Linked DNA regions of Homo sapiens: region 2 is linked to region 1. Evidence: fine-mapped expression QTL. Tissue or cell type: whole blood. Region 1 holds a variant in brackets; the other region holds the start of a gene. All regions are shown on one strand. Distances are from middle to middle.

Region 1 (8,180 bases):
TGAGAGGTCGAATAAGTGCAGGAAAAGGCACATAAGCCCAATAAGAATAATTTTGTGTAGCAGGTAAATCAGTGTGAGAGGAAACTGGTGAGACAGAAAGTATAAGGAGGAGAATAATTAAATAAAACCCAGTGTAAGCGAGATTGAGTGCTGAAGGAGGAAGAGAAGAACAGAGGGATGTTATTGTCAGGCTAATAGAAATGGTGAGATTTTTAGGTTTGTAAGGAGAAAAAGAAAGGCAATCAGGAAAAGTGGAATTAGTTAGATGGGTCTCCATTGCCATCAAGGAGGATTGAATCAGACCCATTGTGATTTGGTGTGCCGGCTTCTAAGGAGTTGGCACAGATCTCACCACGTCTGAGGGCAGTCTCTGACGCGGACGTCTTTTCCCTGCGGTTTTCTTTTGATGATCTCCTGGTGAAACACAAGCATATCCTCTTTCCCATGTTAAGTAGAATAAGAGACAATATTTAAAGGTTTGGGGAAATCCTGTAAGGCAGTATTTATAGCAATTAACTCAGCCTTTTGAGCAGAGGTATAAGGGGTAGAAATAAGCTTGTTTGTAGGACCTACATAACCAGCATTTACATTTCTGGAGCCATCAGTGAACACTGTAACGGCCTCAGGAATGGGCTGATCTTTGGTTAATCGAGGGACCACCCAAGATGTCATTTTTATAAAATCAAACAATTTGTTCTTTGGATAATGATTGTCAATAATGCCAATAAAATCAGCCAAGTGAATTTGCCATAGTATGGAATGTTGAAAGGCAGCTTGAACTTCAAGCTGTTTTAAAGGAACTTCAGTTAAATTCAGATCAAATCTGGAAATTTTAAGTATTCTACACTGAGCCTGTCCAATTAAGGTGGCCATTTGATCTAGATAAACAGACAAATTTTTGACACAGAATGAGGAAGAAAACACCACTCCACTAAATCATTATGTTGAACTATTAGTCCAGTAAGGGAGTGTAATGAAGCGAAAACCAGAAGCTGAAAAGGCTGAAACGGCTGTACTCTAGATAACTGGAATTTCCTCTACGAATTCCAGTTCTAGTGAAGCCTCAGGGGTCAGTCCTGGGACTGCGGAGATTGGAATCTCCCCATGGTGTAGAAAACAAGTTAGACAGCACATAGGTTGGAATACCTAAAGTAGGTCTTAAATAATTAATGTTACCCAAAAGTTTTTGGAAGTCATTTAAAGTTTTCAAAGAATCTTTCCTAATTTGAACTTTTTGAGGTTGAATATGTTGTTTATCGACCACCATTCCTAAATATTGAACAGGAGTGGTCTGTTGAAGTTTATCCTGAGTGATGTGTAATCCAGCCTCTGTAACACGGCGGCTCAAACTTTGATAACAGTCAATTAATTCTTTATCAGTGGGGGCAGCAATTAAAATATCATCAATATAATGAAGAATATAGGCCTGGGGAAATTGGGCTCAAACTGTTGAAAGCACTTGCCCAACATAAAGCTGGAAGATTGTAGGGCTATTTAGCATTCCCTGAGGAAGTACTTTCCATTGATAATGAACTGCAGGCTCCTGACTATTGATAGATGGTACAGTAAAAGCAAATTTTTCACAATCCAATTTATGTAAAGGAATATGAAAAAAACAATCTTTAAGATCAATAACTATGAGAGGCCAATTTTTAGGTATTAAAGCATGGGCAGGCATGCCGGTTTCAACGGCCCCCATAGGTTTAATTACAGTGTTAATAGCCCTTAAATTGGTTACCATCCGCCACTTGCCTGATTTCTTTTTTACCAGAAACACAGGAGAATTCCAGGGGGAAGGAGAAGGTTCCACATTTCCAAGTTGTAACTGTTCAGAAACCAAGTGAGTTAAAGCCTCCAGTTTTTCTTTAGAGAGCGGCCACTGCTGAATCCAAACAGGTGTGTCAGATTTCCATTGTAAAGGGATAGGATCAGGAGGCGTGGCAGCGGCCGCCACTAAAAAGGATAACCTAAACCCGCCCTGTTTTCTTTTACAGTAACTGGGAGGGGTTTAGTAATCCTTTCATGCTTTGGACCGAGACCGAGCCCAGGAACAAACCCCATGTTTTCCATCATATGCTGACTGGGAGCACTATAAGAGTTACGTGGAATATTAATTTCAGCCCCCCATTGTGCCAGTAAATCTCTACCAAAGGGAATTGGGTTCCCACATGCACTTAGGAAAAAAGAAAGACCATGTTGGGTGCCAGATATCGGGGGAACCCGCCCCCAATAATTCAATGTTATTTCACGTAGGTTCTTTTCTATTTCCCTAAGTGTCGGCCAGTCTGAGAAATAAAGGGAAAGAGTACAAAAGAGAGAAATTTTAAAGCTGGGTGTCCGGGGGAGACATCACATGTCGGCAGGTTCTGTGATGCCCCCCAAGCTGCAAAACCAGCAAGTTTTATTAGTGATTTTCAAAAGGGGAGGGAGTGTACGAATAGGGTGTGGGTCACAGAGATCATGTGCTTCACAAGGTAATAAAATATTACAAGGCAAATGGAGGCAGGGCAAGATCACAGGACCGGGGCAAAATTTAAATTGCTAATGAAGTTTCGGGCATGCATTGTCATTGATAACACCTTATCAGGAGACAGGGTTTGAGAGCAGACAACGGTCTGACCAAAATTTATTAGGCGGGAATTTCCTCATCCTAATAGGACTGGGAGCGCTACAGGAGACCGGAGCTTATTTCATCCCTTATCTGCAACCATAAAAGACAGACGTTCCCAGAGTGGCCATTTCAGAGACCTCCCCCTAGGAATGCATTCTCTTTCTCAGGGCTGTTCCTTGCTGAGAAAAAGAATTCAGCAATATTTCTCCTATTTGCTTTTGAAAGAAGAGAAATATGGCTCTGTTCCGCCTGGCTCTCAGGCAGCCAGACCTAAAGGTTATCTCCCTTGTGATACTTTGTGATACGTATTCATCTACATTTTTTTCTTTCTTTTTTTGAGACAGAGTTTTGCTCTTGTCACCCAGGCTGGAGTGCAATGGCATGATCTCAGCTCACTGCAACCTCCATCTCCTGGGTTCAAGCGATTCTCCTGCCTCAGTCTCCTGAGTAGCTGGGATTACAGGCATGTGCCACCAGCTAATTTTTGTATTTTTAGTAGAGACGGGGTTTTACCACGTTGGCCAGGCTAGTCTCAAATTCCTGACCTCAGGTTATCCACCTGCCTTGACTTCCCAAAATGTGGGGATTACAGGCGTGAGCCACCGCACCCAGCCTAGATATTTTTTTAATTGGTGAAAATGAGCAAAAAAAAAAAAAAAA[AAG/G]GCTTTCTCTCTTTTTTTAAATTTACCTTGTCTACCTAGTTTCCAAATAGTGTCCTTTTGCACCAGAGCAAGTTGTCCAGTTGTTTAAAATGTTGGATTAGCTACATGGTCTTTTAGGGTGCAAATCTCCTTTACCACTTTGCATTGCAAATCTTTAAAAGTCAGTAGGGTTGTTTTTCAACATTCCTTCCAGTTCTGTCATATGAAAATTCTTACTATACTAGCCTCTTTTTTTTTTTGAGACGGAGTCTCACTTATTCTGTCACCCAGGCTGGAGTGCTGTCGTATGATCTTGGATCACTGCATCCTCTGCCTCCCAGATGCGAGTGATTCTCCTGCCTTAGCTTCCTGAGTAGCTGGGACTACAGGCACATGCTACCACACCAGGCTGATTTTTTTTTTTTTTTTTTTTTTTTTTGTATTTTTAGTAGAGACAGAGTTTTGCCATGTTGGCCAGGTTGGTCTCAAACTCCTGACCTCAAGTGATCCACCCACCTCGGCCTCCCAAACTGCTGGGATTACAGGCGTGAGTCACCACGCCCAATCCTTACTAGACTTTTCTATGCCATCCTATCCCTGCCTGCCCGAGCTTGATCTGTGGAGATAGCCATCTCACCAGAAACCGTCTTAGATCAATAGTAATCTCTCTTCACCTTGCCAGCCTCTTGACCCAAATTCCTCTTTTTAACCAACCTCCTAGGACCAGAAATAGAGAGAGCTCTTAGTAGGTCTCCATGCTCTGCTCTCCAGAGCAGCTTTGGTCCTCCCACACCTTCCCCTTGACCTACCCATAGATACCCCCGGTTGCTCTGCACGAGCTTGGTAGAGGCTTATCTCCATCTCCCATGTCTTTGGCCCTCCTTTGTATCTTATTTCTGATTTCCCCCACCCCTGACTGTGTGGTAGATTCAGAATGGTGAGTCATGTGGTCTTAACCCTTAGTGCATATGCTTCGCCACTATCTCCCCAAGAGAGGATATCCTGTGTAAACTCTCTGAGAACCCACTGATTTGCTTTAAACAGGCATCGCCCATGACATTTCAATGTCTTGGATATTTCCAGAGATCTTCAGTGGCATCATGTATATACCCGTGTTTTCCTGTGACCCACATTCTCTACCCATGTGTCATATTGGTGGTTCATAGCCCCATGCCCCAGAGTTTCGGATGTTGTGAAGCAGGTCATGGACTCTCAGTTAATATTTGGTGAAATAAGAGAACTCAAAACCCTTCTCTTACGAACACTAACTGGGGAAGGAACTGGAAGGATCTGTCCTCTTTGCAGGTGGAAGCCACATTCATACATTTATCAAACATTATTGTCACAAAATGGACTGAGACGCAGTCAGTTCCTATTGGTGCAGAGCACATGATTGGTAGGACAGAAGAAGTGCTATAAAAATAAATAATGTGTGCAGTCAGAAAGAGCCAGGAACTCTTAACCCCTATGAGGGATGGTGGTGGGGATGCATGGGGAGGTGTCCAGGCAGAGGGGAGGGCTCAGAATGGTAGAGCACGGGGGTTTAGGGAACATGAGGAAAAGGCAGAGGGTGAATGAGGAGAAGGGAGGAGACTGAACTATTGCTGAGGGCATGTCTGTTTGTCCACTGTACTGTTCACCCAGCCAGAATCCTGGAGTTGGACAGGACCTCACATGCTCGGGTCCAACCTTCTTTCTTCATCAGGTAGGAGCGGCTTCCTTCCACAGTTGCTTCCAGCCTCCCTTATCTCACCAAAACTTATTCCGTGGGTCCCATTCCCCCAAGCCCTTGTGTTAAAGCTGTGAACAGGGTTTAGGGGGACCTCACATGGGCTTATCCAAGCCTCACGGAAGTCCAGTGGGGGTACCTTGATCGCAGCCAGGAATTTTGGCACCACTCAGACCTACCCTAGGAACCGCCATGTCCACACCCTCTCAGGTTGCTGAGAGCTTGTCCCTGTTCCCTGACAACACTGTCTTTGCTCTCATCTTCTGCAGGTAAGATTCTCTTCAGACGAAGCCACATCCGGGACGTGGCTGTCAAACGCCTGATACCAATTGATGAATACTGTAAGGTAAGGCTGAGAAATGCCCACGCAGTCTTCCCTGTAGGTGTATTCTGTTTTCTTTTCTTTTTCTGGCTACAAGATGCTCAACAATAAAAATTTGTGCAATTCAAAGGAATGTAAAGAAATTAGGGGGAAAATCATTCATTATCATTCAACTTAGAGGCAACAGTTAGTTATTAAGGGTTTTACATATTTCCTTTCCACCTTTTCTTTATGTGCATTTCTTAATGATGTTGAGACCATTCTGTATGTGTAATTTTGTTGCTCTTTCTCTTTTGCCATAATTATTATGTGAGAATTTCCCTACTATTAAAACATCCTCTTGACTGGGTACAGTGGCTCACGCCTATAATCCCAGCATTTTGGGAGGCCGAGGCAGGTGGATCACTTGAAGTCAGGAGTTCGAGACCAGCCTGACCAAACATGTTGAAACCCCATCTATACTAAAAATACAAAAATTAGCCAGGTGTGGTGGGACACACCTGTAGTCCCAGCTACTCGGGAGGCCGAGGCAGGAGAATCGCTTGAACCTGGGAGGTGGAGGTTGCAGTGAGCTGAGATGGCACAATACACTCCCACCTGGGCAACAGAGTGAGGCTCTGTCTCAAAAAAAAAAAAATCCTCTTAAGCCTACTTTTAATGACCACGTAGTATTCCATTATACATTCATGCTTCCAAAGTTATTTAGCCAATCCCTGTTGTTTGATGGTGCAGCAGCTTCCTGTCCCTTGAACGTCCTAAACAACAAGAGACCTGCCTTTTGGTTATATTTCATTTGACTTGAGGCTATAGTCAGGAAAGGAGCATGTTTTTATATTGTTTAGCAGCTTTTCTTTGGTATTTGTTTCTCCAAGTTAAAATCACTAGCGATTCTGATGGGAGAGGGGTAGGAATAGCAAGAAATGTTTTTTAAATGGAGCAGTGAACAATCTCCCCCTCAGATCAGGAACAAAGCAAGTATGTTTACCCTTACATGTCTGTTCTACATTTTACTAGGGGACTAGCCAGTGTAAGCACACAAAAAAGAAAGAAAAGCCATCCAGATTGGGAAGGAAAGAGTATTGACTCTTGACTCACAGATGACACGATTCTCTATGCAGAAAATCATAAGAGATCCATCAAAAAAATATTAGGACAAATCAATGAGTTTAGTAAAATCAGGATAAAAGCTCAATATACAGAAAACAATTGTATTTCTAAATCCTAGGAACAAATAATCCAGAAATGAAATTAAGAAAACAGTCCCACTCCCAATAGCATCAAAAAGAATAAAATACTTAGAAATAAATTTAACAAAAGAAGTGCAGGGTTTATATAAAACATTTCAATGAAAATTAAAGAAGATCTAAATGCATGGAGAGATATTCCATACTTGTGGATTGGAAGACTCAATATTGTTAAAATGGAACTCCTCCCAGAATGAATCTACATATTCAATACAATCCCTGTCAAAATCTTTTCTATAGGCTTTTTTATAGAAATTGACAAGCCAATCCTCAAGTGTATGTGGAAATATAAAGGATCCAGAATAGTCAAAACACTTTTGAAAAAGAACAACGTTAGATGAGCCATATTACCCATTTTGAAAACTGCCTACAAGGTGCAGTAATCAGGATAGTATGGTACTGACAAAAATAGGCATGTAGATCAGCGGAACAACATTGAGAGTCCAGAAATAAAATCCTACAAAATGTTTGATCAGCTGATATTCCACAAAGGTGCCAAGACAATTCACTGGCAAAAGGATAGTTTTTGTTTGTTTATTTGTTTTTGTTTTTGTTTTTGAGATGGAGTCTCGCCCTGTTGCCCAGGCTGGAGTGCCGTGGCGCCATCTCGGCTCACTACAACCTCCGCCTCCTGGGTTCAAGGGATTCTCCTGCCTCAGCCTCCTGAGTCGCTGGGATTACAGGCACCCACCACCATGCCTGGCTAATTTTTTTTTTTTTTTTGTATTTTTAGTAGAGACGGGGTTACACTATATGTTGGCCAGGCTGGTCTCAGACTCCTGACCTCAAGTGATCCACCCACTTCGGCCTCCCAAAGTGCTGGGATTACAGGCATGAGCCACCATGCTGGGCCGAAAAGGATAGTCTTTTTAACAAACAGTTGAGATAGTCACCTGTTGCATTCGTTTCCTAGGGCTGCATAGCAAAATACCACAAACTGGTTGGCTTACAACATCATTTAGTTTCCTACAGTTCTGGAGACTGGAAGTCTAGGCAGCAGGGCCTTCTGACCTCTCTCATTGGTTTATAGATGAAATGCCTCTTCTCCCTGTGTCTTTACAAGGTCTTTTCTGTACCTTTCTATGTCCTAATCTCCTGTTCCTGTAAAGACACAGTTATATTGGATTAAGGCACATCCCTAGTGACTTCATTTTACTTTAAATTACCTCTTTAAAGATCCCATCTCCAAATATATTCATATTCTAGGGGCTTGGGGGTTAGGTCTTTAATATATAAATAGGGGGTGGAGAGCAAAACACTATAACCCACAACAGCTATACATATGCAAAAAAAAAAAAATGAAGTTAGACCCTTATCTCAAAATGAAGTTAGATCCTTATCTCATACCATGCATGAAAATCAACTCAAAGTGGATCATAATCCTAAATATAAGAGCTAAAACTGTAAAACTTCTAGAAGAAAACATAGGAGAAACTCATCACGACCTTGAGTTGGGCAGAGTTTTTAGCTATGACTCCAAAAGTGTGAGCCTTTAAAGAAAAACTGATAAAAATTGAATTTAATTTAATTGACTTATAGACTTCTGTATCTCAAAAAGTACCATTAACAAAATGGCCAGGCCAGTGGCTCATGCCTATAATTCCAGCACTTTGGAGTGCCAAGGCAGACAGAT
Region 2 (8,180 bases), 59 kb before region 1:
GAAATAATTTGGGGCAAGTCCATAGAATAAAGTGAAAGCAAGTTGATTAAGATAGTAAAGGAATAAAGAATGGCTACCCCATAGGCAGAGCCCTGGCATGGGATGCTCGAGTCTAAGTATATTTATGGTTATTTCTTGATCACGTGCTAAACAAGGGGTGGATTATTCACGAGTTTTCTAAGAAAGGGGCAGGGATTTCTGGAACGAAGGGTCCCTCCTCTTTTTAGACTATATAGAGTCTAAAAGGAATCCTTGTCCAAACCTAAGGGAGAACTCGAATGGAAGAGAAATCCCACTTGGAATCCTATTTGAATTCCAAGTGGGATTTCTCTTCCATTCGAGTTCTCCCTTAGGTTTGGGCTCCCTGATGAACTCGAATTTGCAGAAGTGTTTTGTGTTTGTGACAAGGAACTAGTCCAGTTCCAGTGAATTGTAGTGACCATCTGGGTTGAGATTTTTATCAGCAGATAATCTGCAGTTCTCCCAAGCAGAGCCTAAATGGATCTTTCCAGTCTGAACAGCCAGCCTAAACTGCATCACCAGCCCACAATTCAGTTCTCCAAAAACTATGGTGGACACTCAGAAAAGCCCAAGTTGTCTAGGAGGTAAATGGGTGATATAGAAAGGTAAGAAGAAAAAAACCAATAACACAATTTTAAAATGCACAAAGGACTTGAATAGACACTTCTCCAAAGAAGATAAACAAATGGCCAACAAGCACATGAAAAGATGCTGAACATCACTCATCATTAGAGGAATGCAAATCGAAACCACAATGAGATTCCATTTCACATCCATTAGAATGGTTATTATCAAAAACAAATGAACGAATAAAGAAATAAAAACAGGCCAGACACAGTGGCTCATGCCTGTAATCCCAGCACTTTGGGAGGCCAATGCAGGAAGATCACTTGAGGCCAGAAGTCCAAAACCAGACTGGTCAACATAGTGAGATTCTGTCTCTACAAAAGGAAAATTTTAAAAATAGCCAGATGTGCTGGTGGGTGCCTATAGTCCCAGCTACCAGGGAGGCGGAGGCAGAGGATCCCTTGAGCCCAGGAGATCAAGGCTGCAGTAAGCCATGATCAAAATCACTGCACTCCAGCCTGGGTGACAGGATGAGACCCTGTCTCTTAAAAAACAAAACAAGGCCGGGGGCGGTGGCTCATGCCTGTAATCCCAGCACTTTGGGAGGTTGAGGGGGGTGGATCACCTGAGGTCAGGAGTTTGAGACCAGCCTGACCAATAGGGTGAAACCCCATCTCTACTAAAAATACAAAAATTAGCCAGGCATGGCGGGCGCCTATAGTCCCAGCTACTCGGGAGGCTGAGACAGGAGAACTGCTTGAACCCAGGAGGCAGGGGTTACAGTGAGCTGAGATTGCGTCACTGCACTCCAGCCTGGGAGACAGAGCAAGACTCTTTCTCAAACAAAACAAAACAAAACAAAACAAACAAACAAAACAGATAATAACAAGTGTTGGCAAGGATGTAGAGAAATTGGAACCTTTGTGCATTGCTGAGGGAATGCGAAATGCCACAGCCCCTGTGGAAGACAGTTTAGGGGCTCCTCAAAAAAAAATTAAACATAGAAGTATCACATGATCCAGCAATTCCATTTCTTGGTATATGCACAAAAGAATTGAAACCAGGGACTTGAACAGATATTTTTATACCAATGTTCACAGCAGCATTATTCAGAATAGCCAAAAGATGAAAACAACCCAAGTGACTGTTGACAGATGAATGGATAAAGAAAAAGTGCTATATACATATAATGGAATATTATTCAGCCATAAAAAGGAAATTCTGACACATGCTACAACATGGATGAGCTTTGAGGACATTATGCCGAGTGAAATAAGCCAGACACAAAAAGACAAACATTGTGTGTTTCCACTCATATGAAGTACCTAGCATAGTCAAACTCATAGAGATGGAAAGTAGAACAATGGTTGCCAAGGCCTGGAGGAGGTTGGGGGGCAGTGGGGGGGGACTCAGTGTTTAATAGGGACAGAGCTCCAGTTTAGGAAGATGAGAAAGTTCTGGAGAGGGATGGTGGTGACAGTTGCACAACAATGTGAGTGTACTTAATGCCACTCAACTGTATGCTTTAAACATGGTTGAAATGTTAAATTTTATGTTATGTATTTTTTACTACAATAAAAAAGTAAAACAAAGGAAAGATACGTAAAGATGCAGGGATAGCATCTTCTGCTACTGGTGGTTGTGGGGGGACCTTTGTCTTCCCCAGACAGAGGAGACGGACACAGCCAGCAGGACCCACCTCTGCCACCCATGGTGTGGCTGGGGGCAGGTCTCTCTGCCTCTCCGGAAAAACCCAGGAAGCTGGCTGATTCAGAGAGGGCCTCTAGCTTCTGCCTTCTTAGGAAGGCTTGGCTCCTAATAAGGCAATGCACGATGTGGCAGGGACGGAAAAGCAGACCTTCACTTCTTTGGACATTTCCAATGAGGCCTCAGGACCCTCTGGCTTGGGACTGTACTTCAGAAGAATGTGCCTTACAGGAATTACATGAGTGAGGGTCCTGGCACCGAACAGATGCCACCCTCAAGCTGGGTCCATGAAGACAGTTTAGTAAAGGGTCAATGTATACGGGTGTGGGCGGGGCTAAGGAAGCACCGAGGATGGCGTAGTACCCAGGGCTTGCAACAGCAAGACTGTCACTGTCCTGAGCAGAAAAGTGGCTTCAGGAACCCTGAGAGAGACCATGTGAGAAAGGGCACCTTTGGTAAAAACAATCGGGGAGGAGGGGCTTAGGGATTAAATACCCAGACCTCCCTCTCTCCTCTTGCCCTCAATCTCCTGCCAGGCCCTTCCACTGGCCAAGCCAAACAGGAAGACCAGGACAGAGAGCTGTCAGTGAAATCCACACAGGCCAGCCTCTGGGGCTGGAGCAGGATGGTAAAGTCTGGCAAGGAAGTCAGAGGAGCAAATGGAGGGGCGGATCCAAAGTGAATCAGCCCAAATCATCCACGTGGCCTGGCCGAGGCTGAGAGCCGTCCTACCCTGGATAAGCCCACCCTTTTCCAAAGGCTGATCCTGGACCGGGGTGGGAAGTAGCTCTGTCGTGGCATGGAGAAGAGTCGTACGGTTTGTTGAAAAGAGCCCCCACTTACTGGCTGTGAAAACACTGGCCAGGAGCCTAAACCTCCCATCCATGCATTATATATTCATTTATCCATTCATTCAGCCAACATCTCCTGAAAGTGACTCAGTGCCCAGCCAGTGCTAGGAGGCACTAGATGAAGAAACGAGGAGCTGCCCCAGCCACGGCAGCTTCAACGTGTGAGATCCACCTAGAGCCAGGCAGTGACGGGCTCCATCCACCGGCTCCCTGACTCTGGACCTTCACTGATGTAATTCCTGTAAGGCACATTCTTCTGAAGTACAGTTCCCAAGTCAGAGGGTCCTCAGGCCTCATTGGAAATGTCCAAATGTCTGGAGGCCGTCCTCTGTAAAAACACCTTTTCCTCCTAGAGTCTGCCTGAGGATGCAAAGACAGCATTTGTGAAAAGCAGGGGCCACGGGGCCCAGCGAGCAGTTAAGTGCTCCGCAACTGGAAATCGATGGCCTTGCTAACAAGCACCCAGCTGCCCCTCACACATAGTCACCACCCTTTTATCCCCTTTTGTTGCTTCCATGGCAATTACATTGCACGTATGCGCATTTGTTGCAGTTTTTCTCTCCCTCACTCCCCATGTCCCAGACTGAGGCTGGGGGAACCTGGTCACGGGTCTCTTGCTCCTCCTGAATCACCAGGGCTTGGGGTGGCTTTAGGAACGCCAGCACTCATACCATGGACTGCACTGCGGAATGGCTTCACATGCACTTAATCCCGGGCGCAGCACCGGCAGGCAGGCGGTACTACTGACACGTGCTACAACATGGATGAGCCTTGAGGACATTATGCCGAGTGAAATAAGCCAGACACAAAAAGACAAACATGGTGCTTGTACTACTAGGCTCATATTATAGACGAAGAGACCCAACCCAGAGAGGTTAAGCAACTTGCCGAGGGCACAGAGTGGAAAAGCGGCAAAGCCGGGATTCGAACCCGGGTGTCCGGCTCTCCAAACTGGCGGTGGATGGCGGCTGCCGGAGCGAGAGTGCTGGAATGAATCGATACGTCAATCAGTGAACGGGCGACGGGGTCAGTCCAGTCCCCTCCCCCGGCGCGGCGGCTCAGCACCGGGACAAAGGCCGGGCGGGGGCCGGACGTGGCCGGCGGGGTTCGCGCGCGGTGGGCGGGGGTCGGGGCCGGGCCCTTTAAGGGGGGCGGGCCGGCGGCGCGGGGGGCGGTGCGGGGGGCGGTGCGGGGGGCGGTGCGGGGGGCGGGCCGGGGGCGGGCGGCGGCGGCTGGGCCCGGCTGGAGTGCGCGCCGAGCGAAGGGCGGCGGCGGTGGCGGCGGCGGCTCGTGCTCGGCCCCGGCTGCGATTGCGCTCAGCTCCAGGTTCCCTGCCCGCGGCGGCGCGCCCCCAGCGCTCCCTGCACCCCGCGCCACCCGCACCCGCGCTCGGCCCGCTGCGGGCGGAGGAGCGGCCATGCCGCCGCGGCGCAGCATCGTGGAGGTGAAGGTGCTAGACGTGCAGAAGCGGCGGGTGCCCAACAAGCATTATGTGAGTGCGGCGCGGCCCCCACGCCCCCTTGAGCCCGCGCCCCGTCGGGGGCGACCGAGGGCCCCCGGCTTGGAAAACTTCTGCCTCCAGCGCTTCCCGTCCCCTCCTCCCCTGCTCTCCCCTCGGCTCTGCGGCGGCGCTGCCCGGGTCCCTCCCGACTCCTCCTCCCTCCCTCCCCTCCCCTCCCCGCTTTTGCCTCGTTCTCCCCCTCCATCCCTTCCTCCCGCCTCGCCCCCCTACTCGCCTCCCTGCGGCTCCTCTACCCCTTTCTGTCTTCTCCGTGTCCCCCCAACTCCCGTCCTGCTCATCTGTGGAAAAGTCTGGCTCCAGCCGGTGAGGGGTCTGAGACAGAAAGCGGGAGAGACAGAAGTGCCTGTTCTCAGGCCGCCCGCCTTGCCCCTCCTTGTCCAGAGGCGCGCAGACCCGCAGTCCCCAGCCACAGGTAGCCCCTCTAGGGTTCGCCGAATTTGACTCCGTTCTTTGGCAAGAGCCGGCCTGGGCGATGGAGGAGATCTCTGGGAATGGATCATTTGAGTGGCTACGCCTTTAAAGGGTTAAAAACATCCCCTGCCCCCTCTCTCCAGTAACTTCTGTTTTAAAATGTACGAAAGTTTTCTCCTGGCATCTCCCTCTGGAACATGGGAATCTTGTTTGGAGCTGGCAAGGACTTGAGAAAATGGGACAGTAGCGTCGTTTTGCAGATAGGAAGGCTGAGGCTCAGAGGTTGCAGGTCCTGGAACATAGAGCTGCATTCGGGCTTCCCTCCCTCCAGCAGGGGTGCCTGGGGCTGACGGTGACCTGCAGGTGGAAAGTGGCTTCCGCAGCAACCTAGGGGACACGTCTGCAGATTCAGGAGGCCCTGGGACCACCTCGCAGGTTCTAGGTGGAGATAAAGGGGATGTGGGGTGATGGGCCCACATGAGGCCTTGGGGAGGGCCTCATTACAGCAGGGAAGGGGGCTATAGTGTCTCTGGCGGTGAGAAGTGGGCAGTGGCGGAGCCTGGCTGCAGAGAAGTTAACCAGGAAGGGAAAAAGAGTAAGAGGGAGGGAAAAAATCCTAACAAAGAAGTATAGAACAATGAATAGAAAAGGGCGTTGGCTGGCTAAATTAAGCTCCTTGGCCTCCCTGGAAGTCGTCTTCAGATCTTTTTTTTTTAAGAACTAATTCTTACAAAGTAGATCTGCATGCCTTCCGTGAATAGCCTGTGAAATTCTGAAAGGAGATAGCCGGGAACCCACTCCGCGCTCTCCACAAGAAAGGGTGTGCTGTGTGAGTCTGTATTGTTATTGGCTGGGCAGCCAGTTATTCAGCCCTTAGCCAGGCGGTGGGAAGCTATTTCCTGGACCTGTGGCATCTTTATATAGAGTGAAGTTTCCCTTGATTCCAGAGCTGAGCTAAATTGTCTTTTTTTTTTCCTTCCTTTTTTTATTTTTTGTTAACTGTTTTCAAATGCTGCCAAATCTTAGTTTCTTGTTTGAGCCTGTTAGCGTGTAAGTGAGTTTGCCTCTTTGGCATGAAGACAGTTTTCACCAACATGGCAACTGGAGGAAGTCTGGAATTCTCCATGCCACCTCCCACCAGGTCTGTGAGCTGGCAAAAACGAGAATAGATACTGCCACCGAGGCCCGGCCATCATCGTCCACGCGCCCTCTTCTGGCCTCTCCTATCACGCCCATATCAGGCAGAGGGCCTTAAGCCCATTTGACAGATGAGGAAACCAGGGCTCAGCAAAGTGAGGTCCCACGCCTAAGGTCACAGTCAAGAGCCAAGCAGGGATGTAGATCCAGGCCCGCTGGACCCCAAAAGGACCACACCACTTCCCACATCCGGTACCCCTATAGTTTCTCTGAGCAAAGTCCTCTGAAAAACTGGGAAATCTCTCTTATCATTAGTGAAAACCTGGAAGCTTTTCATTCTCTGCTGTGTCAGCTCCATCCTTGCCAGTTTTTTGAAGGTTTTGCGCTTTGAGAACCGTCTTTTGAAGCTTTCAGCCACTTTTTGGGGGCCCCCTGAGACAAGTTTCTATGTTAAAACATAGATTGGGATTCAGATCTTGGCCTCCCAGGTTGTAGCTGTGTCACCTCAGCCTCAGTTTTTTCATCTGTGTAATGGGGATGGTGGTGTCCATTTCCTAGAGGTAGCAGCCGCATGACAGGCTGCCTTAGGGCATTCCTAAATGCCCTAAAGGCATAGCTCCCTGCCTGCCTGTCCTGAGGTATCTTGTCACTGATTGGGAACATGCCAAAGTCACATGGTAGGGGGATTCATCAAGAACTTGTTTTTCTGCATGTGGCTTTAGTCACTCATGTGATTCAAGAGGCCCTCTCCCTTCTAGCCCAGGCTTCTGGGTTCATCAGATGAGGAGGGGCAATGGGCTGAACTGAAGCCTGAGTCATCCACAGGAACAGAGAACATTTACTGCCTTGATGGCAGGGGGGCCAAACCCAATGGAAACAGATCCCTGTGGTGGGCGACCGCTGCTGTTCCCAAGCTCCACCCCAACCCCTCACACAATCTGGAAAGAGCGGGCATGAAGGCAGCTATTGGCAGGCCTGGACTTTGACTCCCATTTGGTATCCCTTTTTCTGAAGCCACCCTGGAGAGACAGCATCAGCTGGGGAGTTGAACTTTTCTGCTGTGTGACCTCGGACTGGTTGGTTTGCCTCTCTGAGCTCTAGCTTCTGTGTAAATACTGCTACATCCCTCAAGGGCAGAGTTTCTCAAACTCAACACTTTTGACATTTGGGGCTGGATCATTCTTTGTTTCAGGGCTGTCCTGTGGATTGCAGGATGTTTAGCAGCTTCCCTGGCTTCTACCCAGCTAGTTATCCCCCTTCCCAATTGTGACACCCAAAAGGCCTCCAGGCATTGATTGCTGCATGTCCTCTAGGGGGCAGCACCACACACATTCCCACCCCAGCCACTGCGCCATAGACTATAAAGTCAGTTTTTGAGAGTCCTCTTCACTACGCCCCCTAATTTCCCACTACCCCTCTCCCCATTTGCAGCCATCTCGGCCACTACCTGCTCATCACTCACTTGCCTGTGAGGGACAGGGTCACAGGTGCTGTAGATGTCATTGGAGAACTGCACCCGGAGTTCAGGGCTGCCCATCAGGGCTGGGCCACCTGCTCCCTCTGAAATGGTGCCTTCTCCATGATCAGAATGGCGTCCTCTCCAGCCCCAGCCTCAGTCACCCGCAGGCAGAGACATCATCCATGGGCCCAGGGGCAGAGCCACAGGCCAGGTCTGGAGAATGCAGGGCCAGAAGCTCCAGGTGCCTGTGAGATCCTGAGAGGCTGATGACAATGAACCATGATATTGTTTGGAGAGCCTTTCCCTGGAGCCACTGCCCTCTGTTGGAAGCAGGGAGATGAAGATTTGGGGAGCTCCTGCCTTTCTCTGCCAGCATCTTTCCTGCACTAGAGCCCGAGGGCTTGGGGATGAATGGAGAGGGGCTTTTGAGGGTGACATCCTGGGAGACCCTCCCCAGCTAGCTTGTCTTCAGCTTGGGGGGAGGAAGAAGAGCTCCAGGTAGGAT

The links. PIP is the estimated chance that this variant, and not a neighbour inherited with it, causes the effect.
Region 2: it holds the start of SH3PXD2B, and the variant in region 1 is fine-mapped to the expression of SH3PXD2B in whole blood (INTERVAL, PIP above 0.99).

Annotation. Positions count from the first base shown.
Region 1 is chr5:172,391,710-172,399,889 of GRCh38, reverse strand. It overlaps SH3PXD2B (SH3 and PX domains 2B), which reads left to right. Exons shown (of 13, transcript NM_001017995.3): 4 at 5,251-5,327. Among named protein-coding and RNA genes, the nearest start is that of SH3PXD2B, 59 kb to the left of the region's middle. RefSeq lists a silencer at 4,118-4,318. The variant AAG/G (reference allele first, on the strand shown) is at 3,272.
Region 2 is chr5:172,450,736-172,458,915 of GRCh38, reverse strand. It overlaps SH3PXD2B (SH3 and PX domains 2B), which reads left to right and starts at 4,391. Exons shown (of 13, transcript NM_001017995.3): 1 at 4,391-4,638. The coding sequence starts at 4,564. RefSeq lists an enhancer at 4,904-5,425.